2 linked regions of the Homo sapiens genome follow. The protein of the gene in region 2 interacts with the protein of the main gene of each other region in a biochemical or structural test. Each region holds a gene or a part of one and is shown on either strand. Other genes may lie near its edges.

What was found. The genes of interacting proteins can lie anywhere in the genome.
Region 1: the proteins of COL2A1 (region 2) and ANXA5 form a complex in vitro, tested with the Homo sapiens proteins (one study listed by BioGRID).

What each region holds. Positions count from the first base shown.
Region 1 is NC_000004.12:121,693,981-121,701,342, reverse strand, and holds the start of ANXA5 (annexin A5), read left to right. Parts: upstream 1-4,362; 5' UTR 4,363-4,480; intron 4,481-4,718; 5' UTR 4,719-4,753; coding exon 4,754-4,762; intron 4,763-7,362. UniProt on the Homo sapiens protein: This protein is an anticoagulant protein that acts as an indirect inhibitor of the thromboplastin-specific complex, which is involved in the blood coagulation cascade.
Region 2 is NC_000012.12:47,987,477-47,994,556, reverse strand, and holds part of COL2A1 (collagen alpha-1(II) chain isoform 1 precursor), read left to right. Parts: intron 1-79; coding exon 80-133; intron 134-509; coding exon 510-563; intron 564-694; coding exon 695-748; intron 749-1,054; coding exon 1,055-1,099; intron 1,100-1,625; coding exon 1,626-1,679; intron 1,680-4,751; coding exon 4,752-4,796; intron 4,797-5,275; coding exon 5,276-5,329; intron 5,330-6,847; coding exon 6,848-6,946; intron 6,947-7,080. UniProt on the Homo sapiens protein: Type II collagen is specific for cartilaginous tissues. It is essential for the normal embryonic development of the skeleton, for linear growth and for the ability of cartilage to resist compressive forces.

The DNA.
Region 1 (7,362 bases), on a different chromosome or scaffold from region 2:
CTCTAGATAAGGAAGCCAAGGATCAGAGAAATCACATAATTTGTCCAAGTCACATCCCTGGTATGCAGGCAGAGTAGGGATTTGAACTCAACTGTCTCTGTCTTCAGAGAGTGTGCTTTTTCCAGATCTTGCCTGGAAGACATGATGTTCCTCCTTTCCCTTTGTATCTAGCCCCTACTTTACTCCTCAGCCACTCTCTCGTTTCTTCTGCTTCATGCAATTCATTCTCCTGCCATCTTTTCTTCTTCTTTAACTTGCCATAATTTGCAATAGATATATTTATTAAACAAAATCAATTTTTAAAGTAGACTGGTTGAAAATGTTATAATTTTCTAAAAAACAAGATTCCAATTCCTCTAAAACTAAAGAAGAGTTGTTTTGTACTTATTTATAAAAAGCCTGTAACTCATTTTCTTTTCTTTATGTGTCATTATAATCAAGGGAAACAGTAGGGCCATGAATATATGATCAAAATATTAGAGTTGAGAGATGTAGAAACTGAAACACAAAGAAGCTCAGCGACTTATTTAGAATAAATTGGCTAGTTCCTGAATGATCCAAATAATTGAGAGAAATAGGGAAAATCCTGAGTTAACAAATAAATACAGTTTCAAAAGTGTGTTTGTAAATTAGTTCTCTGGCATTTGGTATATTTCTCTAATAAAAAGAAAATTGATGTGACCTGAGTGTCTCATAGAAAACAGCTGAAACTCATTATTTATATCTAAGAATAGTATAAAAAACTCCCCACAATTATTATGTAGTACTTATAATGAACACAACACAAAGACAATACACTGAGAAAGAAGGACTTTAATTTTTAAATGTGTAAGAAGAGAAAATTTAATTAGAAAGATGAAAGACTTAACTGGCGAATCCGGCAGAGATTCTAAAGATGACATTTGGACACTGATAAAGGCCATTGGGGGATGAATGACAGACACTTGTTTTTAAGAGTGTGAAAGCTGTCCTTATCAAAATGGAGTCAATTGTGTTAAAAAACGAGACAAATCCCTGACAAATGGCTGGGGAAGGCCATGAAGGGAGGGTTCTAATACATAAATGCCTGATAACAAGAACTATTGAAAAATACTGCAAAAACCACAACTTTGGACAAAGGCCATTGCAACCACACACACACACACACACACACACACACACACACACAGAGAGAGAGAGAGAGAGAGAGAGAGAGAGAGAGAAAATGAGAACTTCTGCGGAGACATCTGCCCAGCAACTGCCTGTACAACATTAGACTGGTGCCACTCTAGTTATTGATTACTGTAGCCAAGGATAATTATCTCAAAAACAATGATGTAATCTTCCTTCTTCCTTGAAAAACCTTTGCCTTCCTTTACCTCCCTGAATACGCAAAATAGTTTAATATGGCACACATATTCCCATTGCAATGCCCATTCCCAAATAAACATCATTTTCTTTTAGAAAGTCTCCCTCTCTGTTTGTTATTAGGCTGACAAGAGGTAGTGAAAGAGATTTCCTGAGTGCCTATCATTTATATCACTCAGTAGTTAAGAACATCAGTTGTTCAAAATCCATCAATTAAATACACAATTCAAAGCAGAATCTTTATGTGGCAATCTCTCTTTATTCTAAATAAGTCGCTGAGCTTCTTTGTGTTTTAGTTTCTACATCTCTCAACTCTAATATTGTACCTTCCACTCCAGCCATTTTAGACAGTTCAAATCACACAGACACAAAGAGATACTTTCCTTCTCTTGGTTTTGCAGTTCACTTAACCAGACCACCCTTTCTCCCCTTCATAGTTTGATAAAATATCCTCTCTCAAAAGCCTAATCCAAATGCTATGTCAACCATCTGACAAAATATTAGCTCCTTCCTCTGAAACTAATTGCATTTTGATTGCATTCTAGGCATTTCTTTCCTGATTTATAGTCTCTCATTGTAGTGTTCATATACATGCTTTATCTATAATATTAAGGTGCAAACTCTTAGGTATGGCCTTTCCACAGGTGCTCAGTGTATAGTTGTCAAATACAATTAAATTGTATCAATTTAGGTTTCTGTTCAAGGCTTCTCAGAAATGGCTTCATATCACCTTTGCAAAATAAGTGTTCCCTTCATTTCCATTCCCTAGCCTTTATTTTCTTTATACCACGCATCACACAGGACATATTAGATACTTGTTTATTGTTTGTTTCCTCCACCAGAATGTATGACCTATGAGGGCAAGGCCTTTGTTTCACTTGCCGTGTTTACCCCAGCACCTAGATCTGTGCCTGGTCCAGAGTAGGAGTTGAATAAACTGATATTACTGGAAGTGAAAGAAATGCTACCTGGAGTATTTCAAGACTCTGAGTCCAATAACTCATCGATTTTGTCAGTATTTAGCTGCAGGACATAGAGCAAGTCACTAACCCATGATGAGTCTCATGTCCCTGTAAAATCAATGATTGTTAAATACAGGATCTCTGAGGTCCTGTTTAACTCCATTAATGTGAGAGTAGAAAGTGAGAGAAGCAAACTGAGTTCAAGTGGATATGGGTGAGAAAAAAGAATGCTCTAGGCAAGACTACAGGTCCTGCTTTTGGTGCAGGGCAGAGAGAAAGTAGAAAAGCTGGAGCAACGGAGACAGATGCTCAGAAAAGGGCTGCCTTCAGATATATTAATACCTGTAAAGAAAACCCGGGGGAGGTGCTGACTTGGGGAGAGCCTGAGGCTGAGTAGACAGCTGGGCTGGTGGAGAGGAGGCTCCCAGAGGAAAGGCAACCCGCCAGTGGGGTGGGGGTGATGGGGTTGGCAAGCTCCACAAATTTTGCAATTTTGCCTCCTTTCCCAGAGAACAACCACTCTGTTGTGACTTTGTCAGGGCTGGAATAGGCATGTGGTTCACACGTGAAAGCGAATGAGAAGTTCTATACAAAGAACCACATTTGCTGTCCATTTAATTTATTCTTCCTCATTCTCAAAGAAGACTAGATCCTCATCTCTTACCCTTAACCTCCACGTTGAGAAGCACTTTGCCCTTCCCATTCTAGCATATGTCTAGAACACTGCATCTAGTGTCGCAAACTTGTCCTCTTGCCCCCTCTGCCCTGGCACCTTCCCTCCCCACACCAGTAAGTCTGAGAAGGTCCCTGTGTCTTCTACTTTTCCTTTTCCAGCATATGGAGACAAAAGTGATTATATCCCGGATGCTAATCCGCCATGTTGACCTTTAATAACCCCAGTCCCATGAATACCTCCTGATTCCTAGGATTTTTTTTTTAAACTGTCCTTAGCATAAGAACATGTCAACCTTGATGCTATTGCCCACATTGTAGGCTATGAAGCATACGGCATTCTCACCTGTTCCGGAGGGCTGCCTTTAATTGTCTTGCACAGAGCAGTATACTCTTTCCTTACGGTATATAAGGCCAGGGTCTGGGGAGTAACAGTGCAGAAATTTATCTGCTTGCCGCCGCCCAAGGCCACGCTTCTGTCTACCACATCCTCCAATAGCACCCCTATTACCTACAGACTGGATTTGTCTGTCTCGTTCTTTGGTTTCTTGACTCCTTCGCGTTTGGGGGCTGCTTTGCATATAAAGCCCTTTCACAGAACACAGCACCATGCTAGTACAATACGCTGTAGATTCTCCCTCCCTCCCCCTCTCTCTCATATACTCATATATTTTATGTTGAACCAATATGAGGCATTGCTCAAATTTAAGTCATATTAAAGTTCTAGGCTAGTTTTGAAAACAGAAACTGATTGGAAGCAGAGGTTTTCAAATAGCCCACATACGCTACTAGAAGGCTGTACATTTAAGAGAGGGCCATCTAGGAAGCAATAATAGGCATTAAAACAACAACAAAACAACAAAACAAAACAGAAACAAAAACAACTTGGGAAACGGCCCTCCTTTCACGTTTTTTCTATCCCATCGACAAAGGCGCGCTGTCCTTAGCTGCGATGATTTTGTCTCGCCTCCAAAAAGACGCCCACGCACTATGTTGAGCACCCAAGTGAGGCTACGGTTCCTGCGGTCACAGAGGGCAGGGAGGCTCAAGCACCTCCAAAACCCCGAGCCCTGGACAGCTCCCCAGGCCCTTCCCGCGGCGCGAGGACAAGAGGTCTCCGGGGCCCTCGGGGGAGCGGCGCCTCCTCCTGGTTCCAGCAGCTCTGCGGCCGCTCCCCACCCAGGCCCGCGAGACCAGCGGGACAGTCCGCGCCGCGGGAGACCAACTGGGACGAGCCGCGACCCACGCAGGCGCGCTGAGGCCGGGGCAGGGGCGGGCCCGGCTGGCGCGGCCGGCCTGCGGTTGGGGCCCTGGCGGGGGTGGGACGGGCCAAGCCGGGCAGGGCCGGGGTGGGGCCGCTGGCGTTTCCGTTGCTTGGATCAGTCTAGGTGCAGCTGCCGGATCCTTCAGCGTCTGCATCTCGGCGTCGCCCCGCGTACCGTCGCCCGGCTCTCCGCCGCTCTCCCGGGGTTTCGGGGCACTTGGGTCCCACAGTCTGGGTGAGTGGTCGCAGCCCGGGGAGGGGGCTCCTTCTGGAGAGGAGAGCGTGGTCGCGGGGCACTGGATTCGCGCGGACGCTCGGCCGAGAGCTGTCCCGGTAGCTGCGAGAGGGCGGGTCGGCCCCGTGGCGGGGCCCTCCGGGCTGTCTGAGCGCCGCCGGGTCCCCGCGGACCTGCGCTTGGGGAGGGCACGAGTTGCAAATGGCGCGCTAAGCCCGAGGTTTCTTCTCTTTTGCAGTCCTGCTTCACCTTCCCCTGACCTGAGTAGTCGCCATGGCACAGGTAAGGCCGTGCGCCCCCCACTGCGCTGGATTTACCCACAACTTTGTATGCTGCGACGAGGGACTTTTAGGATTTGTCTGAGAGCCAAAAAGTTTAGGAGGAAAGGGAACCTGCTTTGGGGACATCGCTTCCACTTTTCTTGTTCCCCCTTTGCTTCCCTGCCCCCGTTTCTGTGTCCCGGTTCTTCCCGCTGAGCGCCCTCCGGAACCAGCACCGACGCCGCCAAGCTGCCTTCGCGCGCAACAGCTGGTGACGTGGCCGGATTTGTGTGCGCTCCCTTTTCATGAGTGAATGTGTAAAAGTGGGCCTTCCCCAAAATCCAGAGAGTAGCTCAAATTAGAACCGGAGCAAGAACAGCTCATCGTGGTCATGTGAGGCGAACGCATTCCCCCCCCACCCCGCCCCCCGACTTCCTTTATTTTTTTTCCGCAAAGTTTTCTGTATTTTAATACTGTGATTGAGCATTGGCTTTTTCCAGTTGCTCAGCCCAGTTTTACTAAAACTGTAGGACGTAGGCTCTGATTTTTTTTTTAATCCAAAAGATTAAACACAAGCGCTGTTTTTCTTAAGCAATGAACTCGTGGAACGAGTTCTCAATTGAATTTGCCTTGGGACTGTTTCAGAAATTGATAATCTACTACAGGCTTTCTTTACTGTTTTTTTTTTTTCCTTTTTTTTTGAGACGGAGTCTCACTCTGTCGCCCAGGCTGGAGTCCAGTGACGTAGTGATCTCGCTCACTACAACCTCTGCCTCCCGGGTTCAAGCAATTCTCGTGTCTCAGCTTTCCAAGTAGCTGGGATTACAGGCGCCCCACCATGCCCAGCTAATTTTGTATTTTTAGTAGAGGCGGGGTTTCACCATGTTGGCCAGGCTGGTCTCAAACTCCTTGCCTCAAGTGATCCTCCCGCCTCGGCCTCAGGACTGTAATCCCACTGCGCCTGGTTTCTTTACTGTTATTAATGTTTATCAAAAATGTAGGAAAGAGAAGATAGTTTAAGGTCTTTAAATATTGACCATGTTATACAGTCTTTTGTGAATAAGATACCAGGGCTTAAAAACTCTAAAACTGATTTCACAGATCTTGTCAATCTAACCGGCTTGTCAGAGTCCAGATAGTTTTTTTTAAACAAGTGTTTTAACTGCTAAAACAATGCTGTCTCTTATTTATAGTTCACTTTTTATCAGATTGACTTATCAAAATTGAAAAAGGTTTCTTGGTCCTTTCCAAGTGAAAATGGGAGGATTAAGATTAGTTGATTACTTTATGAAACTTACACAGTGATCCCATTCTTACCTCCTCTTTTGCACTTAAATGTTACAGTAAACCAATTCTCATATTACTTCAAGTGGAAAGTTTGGTTTAAGTTCTTCTCCATAGAAAGGATACTTTTATGTGGAATTAACTTTCCTGAGTAATATTTTTCCTATCTTGATATGCTGGTGTGGTGATGTACATGAAGATTTAACAAGCATCGAATAATAATTCCCTCTATCTTTGCTCATTTAGCAGTTTCTTGAATCTCTTGTAAGTTCCCCAGTGATGTCTGAGGGTCCATCAATTCCTTTTCATTATGTAGACTGTTTACCCAAATAGTATAAGCGAACATATTTTCCAGTTGTGGACATTAATTTTAATAATTTCAAAGAATGATTAGTATCATAAAGGCCATGTGTATAGAAAACCTAGGAGAATGGTGGTTTGCATATAAAATTATGTACCTGAGCCCTATGACAATATAACACCAAGACTGTTTTCTATCAAAACTACAGTTTTTACTAATCATAAAAGTTACAAGTAATGTTTTAAAAAAGATACAGAGTGTTAAATTTTGTTCTAGTTTTGTTACTATTTTTGGAAATCATGAAAGTAAAACATTTTGTTAAAATATTTAGTATTGGCCAGGCATGGTGGCTCATGCCTGTAATCCTAGCACTTTGGGAGGCTGAGGCACGTGGATCACGAGGTCAGGAGTTCGAGACCAGCCTAACCAACATGGTGAGACCTCGTCTCTTCTAAAAATACAAAAATTAGCTGGGCATGGTGGTGCACAACTGTAATCCCAGCTACTCGGGAGGCTGAGGCAGGAGAATCACTTGAACCCGGGAGGCGGAGGTTGCAGTGAGCTGAGATCGCGCTGCTGCACTCCAGCCTGGGCAACAGTGAGACTACGTCTCAAAAAAAAAGTTTAGTATTAAAGTTGGGTGCGGCGTCTGAGCAGTAAGAATGTCATGAAGGCAAAACTAGGCTACGTAATTGTTCATTAGAAGCTTCATGAACATCAGAATTTTTTTGTTTATTTTTTATTTATTTTTTATTATATATATATTTTTATTATACTTTAAGTTCTAGGGTATGTGTGCACAACATGCAGGTTTGTTACATATGTATACATGGTGCCATGTTGGTGTGCTGCACCCATTAACTCAATATTTACATTAGCTGTATCTCCTAATGCTATCCCTCCCCCCTCCCCCCCGCCCACAATAGGCCCCGGTGTGGGTGTGTGATGTTCCCCTTTCTGTGTCCAAGTGTTCTCATGAACATCAGAATTATCTCTATGGTATATGTTTAAGTTACAAGGTTTGATCAGAAATATTT
Region 2 (7,080 bases):
GGAGGGAAGCCCTCTGGGGTGCCCCCACTATGCTACTGCGTCTCTGAGGAAGCTGGGATATCTCTCTCTCTCCCTTCAGGGTGAAGCTGGAAAACCTGGAAAAGCTGGTGAAAGGGGTCCGCCTGGTCCTCAGGTAAACGCCACCGTTCCCAGCCTCAGGCATCTTTCCTAGCGTCTCCCTCCCTGTGGCCTTAAACACAGTGCATCCAGTTCAATGAGGTCACTTCTGAGATGAAACGCCAGTAGCCCCTATATTTATCACGACCATGTTTGTAATTTCCACTCAGGCTCTCATGAGGGAGGCTGGGCAGTTGTTATTTATACCACTTTGCATAAAATGGGGGGTACGGGGAGGGGTGGTCTGGGTTTTACAGAAAGAGCTGTCCAAGTGTGGGGATTCGAGACAACGCCCTGGTGGCCCAAGGGAACTGGAGGCCCTCCTGCAGCCCAGGGCAGCTTTCCACTGTTATTTTACTCTGTGCTCTGAACACCTCCACTTTGGATTGCAGGGTGCTCGTGGTTTCCCAGGAACCCCAGGCCTTCCTGGTGTCAAAGGTCACAGAGTAAGTATCACGGGTGAGAAGGTTGGAAGGAAGAGATGCCTGGTGGGAGAGAAAAGCACTTTGGGGTGCGTGCATTTCTTCCAACTTGGGTTTCCCAGAAGTCTGATTGAACATTTTCTCTTGTTCCCTAGGGTTATCCAGGCCTGGACGGTGCTAAGGGAGAGGCGGGTGCTCCTGGTGTGAAGGTGAGAGGCCAGAAAGTACAATGGGATGGGGAGGAGGGAGACAATGAGGAGCCCCTCTTCCTAGCCAGGGAGACACTGTGGAGCTCAGTGGAACTAGCTCCTCAGAACAGCCTTGGCTGGGAACACCAGCCCTACATCCTGATGGGCCAACAGCAGGCCTGGAGAGCTCAGGGCATTGTCCCTCACAGGACTGAAGTTTGTGTCAGTGCGAGCTGAGATGACCAGGGCTTTTGGCGTCTTCCCTAGGAGTTTGCTGGCGGCCAAGAATGGGGTCCCAGACACTGACCTTGTGCATCATTTTTCCAGGGTGAGAGTGGTTCCCCGGGTGAGAACGGATCTCCGGGCCCAATGGTAAGTATGGACACCCTCCAGGAAGGTTTATCAAAGACTCTTCAGACTATCAGATGGCTGCAAAGAGCTCCCTTTGTGCAAAGTTCATATTCTGTGTTGTAGATTTCATCTGATTGTGAGCAAAAAGCAAAATGTATTAGACAGATGATTTGTTCAAGATTTCACCAACATTTCCTTAAGATACCCATTTTATCACACTAAAGATGCTCCCATTTAAAAAAATTCTGTTGAGTCTCAACATTTTGTCAAGCTCATCTACTGCAAGGAGCAAGGTGTGCTTGTAACAAAGGTTCCCAATAGGTAGCAACAGGAACATTCGTGTGTTCCGCCTGTGGAGAAAACTGTTGGGTGTGATCTGAGGCATCCTGGCTAGTCAAGGAGCCAGCACCATCAGGAGGTCCTTGTTTTCCTGGGTGTGGGCATCCTCCCTCTCCTCTGGTATCCGCAAAGGGCCTGCAGGTAGAAATGGTCACCCTGAGCACCGTAAAGCCAACTCATGCTTAGGCTGTCCTGGTGTGTGTTCCAGGGTCCTCGTGGCCTGCCTGGTGAAAGAGGACGGACTGGCCCTGCTGGCGCTGCGGTGAGTAATTGACAAAGCCAAACACCACCATTTGCCGAGCACTTTAGAGTTTACAGGTTTGTTTCTCTTGACCCTCGAAACAACCCTGTGAGGCATAGGGAGTATTGTTATCCCTTAAGAATTCACCCCCAGTGTGCCCATCAAAACTTCCCAGGCTGAGTCTGCACAGTTGAAGGAGGAAGGATAGGAATGGGAGGGTCGATGGGTGAAAGCATGATTCTCTTAACCAGTCCAGATTATCAGGTAATCCCTTCAACAACCACCACCCACTCCCTGGGCAATCCAGCTGGAGTTTACAGACAGACTTAGCTGGCTATAGCACCACCGTGCTACTCTCTGTTCTTCCTGGTTGCTCAAATGCCCTAGAAAAGTGGAACAGGTGAGCATCAACTCACAGGGCTCTATGCTGGCTGCTGCTGTGAGGGATGTTATGCTATAGTACCAGGGGCCACCATTCCATAGGCACTTCCTGTGTTTAATACCCTATATGCTTTACTTCATCTCATCTTCCTCCATATCCTGAGAGGTGGTTCTATTCTTCTCCCCATTTTACGGATGAAAAAACCGAGACACAGAAAGGTGAAATAGCTTAAGATAAATAGTGCCTTGCAGCCTTAGACTCTGGTGGCCTCTAGTTAATGTGGGAAATTAAGGGTGAGGGGATTGGCAGCTGATGGAGGGTGCAGGGTGCCAGACAGAGGCGTTTAGCTCTGATTCCTTAGCAATAGAGAGTCCTTGTAGGCACTTGGTCAGGCGAGTGATGCGATGAAAGCTGTGTTTAAGAAAGATTATGCTTTCTGCTGATTTCATACCCCCAACACCCAAGCTCTGAGGCCCCTCCTCACAGGTCCTTGCAGGGCTGGCCAAAATAAAGCAGCTTCACTCCGTTGTGCTGCTTTCCAGCTAATGTGTCTGTTTGGCAGAAGTTTCCCTCAAAGGCAGATCAGTGAAATAAGCAGAAGCCTCGACCCCCCTTTGTCAGCCAGAGCTGCTGAAGTGCCTTGCCCCAGGGTCACTTTGTGTGAGGGGATTAGAGAGCACTGGGGCTGCCAAGAAACACTGCCGTTTCTACAGATTAGCAGGATGCTGGCTTGTGGCCTTTTAGCGAGGCTCAGAGCTGCGGTGGCCCTAGTCTGCATGGGCTAAAGACAAGCTCCATCTCCTGTCCTTGTTCCCTCCTTCCTGGGCACAGCCGCCCTGCTTCTTGGTTCTCTCTGTTGGTTCCTGTCCGCACGGTAGTTAGGCTGGCAGCGTGTGTAGGATTTGGCTTAGAAGATTGACAACATTGCCTTTGAGCCCTTCTTTGCTACTCCTCCCTCTCCCCTCCCATCAGACTCCTCTCTGGAGTCTGCTCTGCGAGGCCTCTGCTCTGTGGTATCCCAGCAGCCTTCTCAGCCTTGACTTCCAGAAGGGGGCTGTGCAGTGTCCGGGGTGTGCAGGCCCCAGACACGGGGTAGGCTCATGGAGATCCAAGTGCTGATCTAGTGTCAAGGCTGGCCTGGAGACTGGGCTGGGTTGGTGTCTGCCTGCTGTGGTCATGTGCCCTCCCTTGGGCCTGTATCCTCTCTCCAGACTTGCTGCAGGGAGAGGTGGCAGATGTCAGCCTAGTTCTGGCCTCTCAGAGCAGCATGGCAGCTCCCTTTCACTCAGGCCCAGGCTGGGCCCTCCTGCTGGCTGACCCCTGGGGAGAGGGTGCTCCAGAGCTCCCCAAGGAACTGCTTCCCGAAGCAGCCAGGCCAGCCCAGAGGGGCTGTGGCCAATCCTGAAGCTTTATGTTCCTGCTGACATTTTTTCTAAGTTTTCTCTTGCTTTCCTCTTAAATGCCAATCTGGAGAGTCTCCGTTAGGAGAAATGGACCCCAGCCAGGAAGAAGAGTTGAGTTGTATTTAAAACACGAGCTCCCCCTAAAGCATCCTTCTTTAGCTTCTAAGGAGAGGCAGAGACTGACAGGCAGGACTCAGCAGGAAAAGGTACCCCCCTGACCTGCTCAGTCAGGCCCTAGGCCCAGCTCCACCCAGCCTGTGGCCCCCAGAGTTTCGGTAAAGAGTTCCCTGGGCCTTAAGGAACCTTGAGAGAGCATTTGAGGGGTGCCACCACAAACTTGGCAGAAAAAACCCTCCCCCTCCAAGTCCAGTCCTAGAGAAGGAGCTGGCAACCTTGCCTTGCTTTGTAAGCAAAAGCCTCTTAGGGCTTGAGCTCAGATGTAGTGTTTGAGCTGTGGCTGGTGCCCTGCCCCATCAGGGAGCCAATGGTAGACATCCTATGGGCATCTTTGTTTTCCGTAAGAGCAGGCTGTCTGGGGATGGGCCAGAGGAAGAGGCAACCTGGAGTCAACCAAGAGGAGGCCTTAACCAAGCCTTAACCACAGAGGTTAACCAAGCCTTGAAAGCGCTTCCCCCTGAGCAGGCAGGAAGCACTGAGTCCACATGGTTGCCTCGCTGTTTCATTTCCTTACACTCAATTCTCTCAGTCTTTAAATGATCACTTGGCCTTGAAGTTACGGATATTTGGGGTCTGAACTGAAGTTGAAGAAAAGAGAAAATGATTTAAGCTTTGTTTAAGATTAGGGGCCAGGTGCGGTGGCTCACGCCTGTAATCCCAGCACCTTGGGAGCCTGAGGCGGGTGGATCACCTGAGGTCAGGAGTTCCAGACCAGCCTGGCCAACATAGCAAAACCCAGTCTCTACTAAAAATAACAATAAAAAAAATAGCCAGGTGTGGTGACACATGCCTGTAATCCCAGTTACTCAGGAGGCTGAGGCAGAATTGCTTGAACTTGAGAGGTGGAGGTTGTAGTGAGCCAAGACCGCACCACTGCACTCCAGCCTGGCGACAGAGCCAGACTCCGTCTCAAAAACAACAACAAAAAAAGATTAGAAGAAGCCCATTACTGCCTTCTGGCCACCCACTCGCACAGACACCAAAACTGCAGCCCACACCTCGCCATCCTCGTGCTCTGCCCTGGGACACCCCAGGCACAGTGTGTCCTTCGTTTTCTGTAAGGGTGGGCTGGGAGCAGGGACGGACAGGGCCTGTGGGCACCTCTCATGGTCACTTCCTTCTTGCTCACAGGGTGCCCGAGGCAACGATGGTCAGCCAGGCCCCGCAGGGCCTCCGGTAAGTTCATTTCATCCTCAGCAGGTCATTGTTGCTGTGCTTTAAGTCCCGTTAAGCAGCCCAAGGCAGTCTGCAGGGTGTATTGGGTGCAACCACAGCAGCACTCTGATGTCTACTGGAAAGGGGGAGGAAAGAGAAGAAGTTTGTAAATATCAATTGAGCATATCGATAACAAGCTTTGAAGCATGGGCTCATTTTCCTCAGCCATCCTTTCAGCAGTCTTTTTAGAGGAGGGAGGTCAAAGGAGTTTCTGCTTCTCACCACAGATGTAGTCAGAAACTTGCTTTGCCTTCTGAAGCCAGGCAAAGTTTCCTGGGGACGCTGGCAATGGGGACAATTTTCATCCAAGGCCTTTTAGCCACAATGGATATGGAGTGAAATCAGTACAGAGGAGGGAAGGAGTGTGAGGTGTCGGGGTGGCTCGCTTTGGAGGCCAGAACTGGCATTCACCTCTCTTCTCATCCGCCTACTCTCTCCAGGGTCCTGTCGGTCCTGCTGGTGGTCCTGGCTTCCCTGGTGCTCCTGGAGCCAAGGTACGTGCCCTGTTGTCCAGTCAGGAACTTCTGGGTGCCGAGAAGCTGTCCTTTCCCCGTAACCCTTGCTCATTGCTCCCTCAACAACCACCTGCTCCCTTCTGAGAAGTAGCTCCCCACCACCCCACCCACTGGCCCCTCCATCCAGGCAGGGCAAAAAGCCAGACACTCGCAGTCTCACCTGGAGGGAAAGTAAGACAGAAGATAAAATGTGGGAGATCCAGTTACAACTTTGGAGTGGGGAAAGGTGGACAGAGAAGAAGACGGGGATACACCATAGGCCTGGCAGGGGCAGAAGGCCAGGAGTGGCAGCACAGGGAAGCAAACCTAGGGGAGACCCAACAGCTGAGCAAGCTCGGGGCCCTGACGGGCACTGGAGGGAACTGGGCAGGGAAAAGGGCACAGGCAGGGAGCCCCTGCTCCCCTCTGGGTTTCTGCTTTATTTGGGGTGCCTGGCTCTTCCAAACCATGTTAACGGAGTTCTCTGGAGGATTACTAGAGGCCAGTGGGAGGCCAGCCAGTTCAGGGACAGGCCTCGCAGCCCAGGAAGGATTCCAGTGTGAACGTCCCTGGGAATGAATAAGGAGCCTCCATGTGTCACTGGCATCAGGTTGCTTTTCCCCTCCTGGGGGTTTCCATGGCAACCAGACAGTGTCTGAGGTCCCGGAGCCGGGTGAAGGAGACCCATTGTGAAGAGGGACAGCGGAAGGTGAGGGGGGCTGACCTTTTGAAAATAATAATTACCACAGTGAAGCAGGAATGTTCTGAGAAGAAACCTGAGGAGGCTCTGCCCTCTCTCCAGGTCAGCAGCCCTCCCCAGGGACTCTGCCATCTAGAGTGGGTTGTAATTTTCAGGAAAAAATGAAAGTAAAAGCACAAGCCATTTTGTGGGGAGGGGGCTTGCCAGAGGCGCCCGCTAAGGGGAATTGGGCTGTATTGAGAGCAGGGAGGGGCAGAGTCCCCATGTGCTTTTGCCTTGGCTTTCTGGCTTACTGAGAACAGACTGGGGCCGGAGCCAGGGTGTCACTGTTCACCCGTCAGCCAGATGGGAGTGAGGTGGTGCTCTGAGCTGGGATGTTCAGAGACTTAGAAGGGACCTCAGCTCCTCAATAAAATAGAAAAACAGGAGGTGGGGGAGAGAGCGGTGTCCGTCCATCATCCCACGGTGCCAGGATGGCAGGGTCCCCAGCCCACGCTTTTCTGATGGTGTCGATGGAACAGCAGGTTGCCCATTGCTGTAGTATGTAGCTGTGCCGTGGCATGTGGAGGCTCACTGTGTAGAGATGAGGTAAGCAGTAGAGGAGGCAGGCGTGGGAAGTCATCAAGTCATCAGCTCGGTCAGGCAGGGAGAAAAACGGCAGCGTGAACTGTGTGTGAACGCACATGTTCATGTGCAGGGTTGGGTGCATGTGCATAATTTAGTGCTGTGCTTGCAGCTGGCCCTGAGCTATTGCCCACCCACTAGAGGTCTGTGTCCCCTCTCTTCTTCTTCATTTCATCCTCCCTGTCTCTTCCCAGGGTGAAGCCGGCCCCACTGGTGCCCGTGGTCCTGAAGGTGCTCAAGGTCCTCGCGGTGAACCTGGTACTCCTGGGTCCCCTGGGCCTGCTGGTGCCTCCGTAAGTGCAGCTTCTCTTTGGCCTGGGGGGGTCTGGGGTCTGTGGCTTTGGAACTCTTGACTCTGTACTTTGCTCTGACAGTTGTGGGCTCCAACCACCAAACCTTCATTCTGGCCCAATGCCTGTCCCCACCT